Regions from separate parts of the Homo sapiens genome. Here region 1 is linked to region 2. Evidence: fine-mapped expression QTL. A gene starts in region 2. The other region holds a variant in brackets. All regions are shown on one strand. Distances are between the middles of the regions. Region 1 has its middle 20 kb from the start of BOLA3. Region 2 holds the start of BOLA3-DT (BOLA3 divergent transcript).

Region 1 (2,500 bases), 21 kb before region 2:
CCAACTGATCTCTACCAGATTGACACAGTAGATCAGCTGTTTTAATGCTGAAAAGAGAAGCTTATATAAATACAGTGCACATCTATTAATGCTTCTCACGTCTGTAGTTCTGTTTCAGGCAGAGGTTTTTTGGCATAGGACCTGTATTCAGCTCACACTTTCCTAGGCTGGCTATGAGTAGAATGCCTCGTGGCAGTAGCTACACTCATACATAGGCATTGATCTTAGATCTGTGTAGAGTTTTAAATCATTGGCATCTTTTAGGCCTAAATTTTATATTTGCTGGATTTTTTTTTTTTTTTTTTTTGAGATGGAGTCTTGCTCTGTCACCCAGGCTGGAGTGCAGTGGTGCATCTCTGCTCACTGCAAGCTCCGCCTCCCGGGTTCACACCATTCTCCTGCCTCAGTGTCCCACGTAGCTGGGACTACAGGCACCCGCCACCACTCCCGGCTAATTTTTTGTATTTTTTCAGTAGAGACGGGGTTTCATCGTGTTAGCCAGCATGGTCTCAATCTCCTGACCTCATGATCCACCTGCCTCGGCCTCCCAAAGTGCTGGGATTACAGGCGTGAGCCACCACACCCAGCCTGGAATTTTTTTAAAGCAGTAAATGTAAACGCTAACTTTAGAAAATATTAATAATATGATTAATTTTAGCCAGAATAAAATAATTTGCCATCTTTATAGAAATCTGGCCACGTAGGAATTAGCATTCTTAAAATTGGCACTGAAGCCAGAAGATGGATAGTGAAATTGGTCACATGCATAGACAGCTACCAAGTCCAGTGTTTAATGGTGCCCAGTGAAGAGGATTGAAGCACACACCAGAGAAGCAGCTGTAACTGGGTCAGAAGAAAAGTGTCAGGCTGAGACTTAGTTTTAGGTAGAAAAATGAGCTGCTTGCCTCTACATTCATTATTGGCTCATCTCATAAACTCAAATGAGGGGATCAGAAGCTGGCAGAAGGGACGGACTCATGCTTGTTGATCCGGATGACCTCTGTTTCAAGGTTCCAGCAATGAGTTAGCTTACATTTTACAAGGTCTCCCAAAGTGAAATGTAGTAGTCTTTACTTAGTGACAGACTAATTTACAACTATGTAATTCTTTTAAGTTTGTAATTAAAATTTCTTCTGAA[T/G]TATTAATGGCTTTATTGACATGATGTTAATAAAGCCTCTCATCTTGCTGTTAAGTATTGTAGTGAGAAAATCAGCTGACCTGGAAACCATGGGGATTGGTTCTAATGAGCCATAAATGCTTCCCCTCTTCCTTCAGCACTAGTAGACTACCAGCTTTAGGCATTTAACCAAACGAATTGGAGACAGAAAATATTAAAATCCAGCCATCCTATATCAGATGATGAACTCATTTCCAGACTAACTACCCAAGAAAGCAAGTTAAACACTGTAAAAGCCTAAAACGGGGCAAGTTGGGATTAGCTTTTAAAATGCCTGCCTTGAAAAACACATTATTCTGTGAGGTTTTTTTTTTTTCTTTAAAGTTGTGCAAATTTGATTCGGAAAAATAGCTTAATAGGTTTGTATAGGGCACGGGAGAAGGGGTTGTGTGCATAAATGTATGATGATTATTTTAAGTGTGTGCTTCAGCAGCGACAACAAACAGATGAAGATACGTGATACTGACTAAACAGGCAAGAGTATTTTCTAGTCTCAGTTCTTCTAGTCAATGCCTAAAGTATTAGAAAAAGTACTGAAACAATTCCCAAAGCATCAGGAATTTCCATTTCTAGTCAAAATATTGTTTGTTTTCTTCCAACAGTTCTGTTAAATAAAAGGAAAAGTTATAAAGTTTTAGAGATATATTTAATGTCACAGGTTAATAATGTGTGTATAGAAGCCTTCTCTAACCTTGTTTGTAAATCTACCAAACCTCACCTCAAACAGTGTTCTCCTTAAACCCATCCTTTTTGTGCAAAGCTACTGCTTCCTGATGTCCATAACTCAAGGCATTTTTTTTTTCGCTTGGTGTAGTTTCTGAAATGTGATTATTTAATGTTTGCCAAGATGTTTGGAATAGAGTAACTTTCAACTAATCAATTGATTGTGACTTTCTTCTTTTGTAGTTTTTGTTTTTAAAATTGCTTTCTGTCAAACCCATCTATAATTCCCCCAGAATATATTTATATGGACTAAGGCTTACCAAAAATAAGGAAAATCGGAGAAACTGCCACCGCCAGGAGGAGCCAAGGGGACATGATGACTAAATGTAATCTGGTTTCATGGAGGGGCTACCTAGAAAAAAGACATTAAGGGAAGACTAAGGAAACTTGAATAAAGTATGGGCTCTCCTTAATAATAGTGTAACAAATTCATTGTAACAAATGCCCCATACTAACGTAAGATGTGAATAATCAGGGAAACTGGATGTGGGACATATGGGAACTCCACTATCTTCAAAATTTTTCTGTAAATGTAGAACTGTTCTAAAACAATAAAGACTATAAAAAAATAATAAAGACTATTAGAAAAAAAAAAAGGCT
Region 2 (3,026 bases):
CAGGTTGGAGGACACTAGGGCCGTTCATGGGTGCTGGTGCTGAAGGTCCCACCCCTCTACCCCTCAGTCCTTCCTGATAGCTCAGAGCAGGGTCCTGTGTCACAGAATCTCAGAGCACCTCCTTTAAAATGAGCTGTGCACTGGCTCTCTCACCACTGGTCTTATAGGCCAGGAATGAGTCCGGCAGCATCCCAGAGCTGACCCCAGGGCAGGCCCTCAGAGGCACTTGGTGCTGGATGAATGAATGAGCAGGGGAAGAACTAGTCAATTAGGGACAGAAATGCAAGACAGGAGAAAGGTCCAGAGTGTGATTGTCTGCCTGCTGTGTGGAGGGACAGAAACTCGATGTTGAGAGGCTGGACAGGATTGCCAGGAGTGAGGGTGGGGTGGAGCTGCTTCTGGGGGCAGAATCTTGAGGGTAAAGGCAGAGAGTAACCAGATGGCAGACAGAATCGGCAGCTACTAAGGGGTGAGAGAGGTGAGCGTTGCAGAATCCTTGGGAGAAGCCTTTCATCTTAGCGGATCTGTGGGCAGCGGCCTTTAGTGGAACAATCAACTGACATCCCCAGATGATCACTGTCCACGCTGAAAGTCACCGCAGTGGAAGAACTTCTCTTCATGCACAGGGCAGGCAGGTTCAGAACCAGGGGAGAAGGAAAATGAAAGTTAAGAGAAAGAATGGTATGAGCTGAAGCAAAGGATGGTTCAGAAAGGGGGAGAGATTAGGAGAGCGCGTGGGAAGTGCCCCCTGCTTGGGTTCTGCTCCGGTAGTGTGGGATTTGGAGGAGGATCAAGGTCAGAGGCCCAGTCGACCTTCCCAAGGCCCCGGCCCCGCTGCAGTCCCTCGCACCCACGCCTTGACTCTGGGCTATGACTCCTGTCTTCTGCTCGGTAAACCAATCCTTTTTTTTTCCTGTGCCCGCAGTATTATGACTGTTCATGTGTCTGTCCGCCTGACCTCCAACCTCCACCCAGCTCGGGAGCTCCCCTAGAGCGCGCCAGAGCTTGAAATTTCGAATGCCGTTGTCGCTGAGTGAATGAATGAATGAAAGAATGAATGAGAGAAAGGAAGAGGAGCCCCCCATTGCCAGTGCCGCGCGCGCCCTCCGGGAGCCAGTCCTCAAGCCCCGACAGCCGCCGGCCCCGCGGTCCCTCCGCAGCTCCCGTCCCGGGGAGAGCAGCCCCGACCCTGCCCACGCTCACCCCGCGGATCCCGCGGAGGAGAGGCGCTGCCGCGGCCGGGCTCCATGCAGCCATGCCCGGCCGACGTGACCCGCCGCCCGAGGTCACTGTATGCCCGAAAGACGCGGAGCGGGGGACCGAGAGCCGCCGCCGTGGGAGAGGCCGCCCCCTGCCGCCCGGAGGCCGTCAGCCTCCCGGCCCCGCCCCGGAGGCCTCCGGTCGCCTGGCTCCGGCCCCACCCCGCCATCCCCTGGCCCTGGCTGACTCGCCACCCCCGACACTGCAGCGCCTGCCGACCTCGGGGCCCCGCCCTCTGCCTTCGCTCGCGCCGCTCTCCTTCAGTCTCCCCAGGGCCTGTTTCATGGATAGGGTCCCCTTGCCCGCGTGAAAGTCTCATTCCTCCTCAGCTCAGAAACACTCCAAGGTCTCGGCGCCCTATACTGGCCTTCCCTCATCCGAATACCCCTCGTGCTCCTGATGTACTTTTCCATTCCCACTCCCTACTCTGGCAGTCTAGCTTCTAAGCTGAGGAGTTTGGCCTTCGCTCCAGGTGCGGGGACTCGTGGAAGGATTTGATTCGCGCTTGAGAAAGATCGCTCCGCTCCTGTAAGGAAGAGAGCGTGTAGGGGCTGCAACCAGAGACACAGTCAGAAGCTCCGAGGCTACCGCGATGGTCCAGGTGAGAATGGAGGGGCCTAACTAAACCAGTGGCGGGAGGGATGGAAGAATGAACTGAGACACTTGGGAGGTGAATGGAATCGAGCGACTGCATGTGGAGGTGTGAGTGGGAAGGTATCTGAGATGACTCCAGTTTCTGGCTTGGACAATGACTTGGATGGAGGGTTAGGTGGGGGCTGAGCAGAGTCCACGAACAGTTCTTAATTTGCCTGAGTTTAAGGTGCCACAGGACACAGCCTAACAGAGGCCCAGGTTGGAGCCATGGACCATGGAGTCATGAGAATGGAAGGGAAGCTGACGCCATGTGGGATGGGGTAGAACTGTCCGCAAATTCGTCCCGCCTCTGGAGTCTTCAGACCAGTCAAGGCCGAAATTCAACCAAGCCTCTCCTCTCTCTAGCTGTTATTTGTTTGCAGCACGCGGTCTGGTGGCACCCTGCAGGATTTACCAGCTTTTTGCCAACATTCTGGCCTATGCAATCAATACGTCCCTTCAGCGTTGCACTTGGATGGATTGGACCTATAGTTGTTATATATGGATATTGTCTAATTTATTTATTACAGTATTAACTGACTCCTATGTTCTGGCCTTCAGAATTTCTCCTTTGGATCAATTACTAGCCTGTCTTACATTTTCTGCTTCATTCTTTTAAAATGTTTAGAGATGATTTGCTAAGTTTTCTTCATTGCTGTCAATGATGCAATTTAAACTGTCAAAAAAATTTTTTCTCAAGCAGGGTAGTAATGGTGAACCATTCCCTTGCTATTCAGACAGCATGGTTTAGATGAGGCGCACCTATCCCCAGCTTTAGGAATGGAAACAGGACCCAAGTCTGGCTAATCAGAGACTGGTTTAGGGTCGGCCCCATGGTCTGAGCCAGACCAATGAGAATTGGTAGAGGGACTTCCTTTTGCAACTTCTATTTTAGAATCGGGGGTATATATGCAGGCTTGTTACAGAGGTATATTGCATGGTGCTGAGGTTTGGAGTATGAACGAATCCGTCCTTCAGGTAATGAGCATAGTACCCAATAGGTAGTTTCAACCCTTGCCCCCTTCCTCCTTCCCCAGTCTTGTATTCCCCAGTGTCTGTTGTTCCCAGACATTGATCTTTTTCCTCTATGTTGCTAAGCTGGTAGAAAGGCTGGAGTTGCTGGCAACCATCTT

Evidence for each region. PIP is the estimated chance that this variant, and not a neighbour inherited with it, causes the effect. A credible set is the group of variants that fine-mapping cannot tell apart.
Region 1: its variant is the best candidate, but not a certain one, in a credible set for the expression of BOLA3-DT in fibroblasts (GTEx, PIP 0.53).

The regions. Positions count from the first base shown.
Region 1 is chr2:74,126,214-74,128,713 of GRCh38, forward strand. It overlaps a transcript of TET3 not described here. Among named protein-coding and RNA genes, the nearest start is that of BOLA3, 20 kb to the right of the region's middle. The variant T/G (reference allele first, on the strand shown) is at 1,139.
Region 2 is chr2:74,146,618-74,149,643 of GRCh38, forward strand. It overlaps BOLA3-DT (BOLA3 divergent transcript), which reads left to right and starts at 1,364. Exons shown (of 3, transcript NR_045636.1): 1 at 1,364-1,606; 2 at 1,733-1,861; 3 at 2,081-3,026. It overlaps BOLA3 (bolA family member 3), which reads right to left and starts at 1,295. Exons shown (of 4, transcript NM_212552.3): 1 at 1,204-1,295. The coding sequence starts at 1,257. RefSeq lists a silencer at 1,036-1,515 and an enhancer at 1,049-1,708.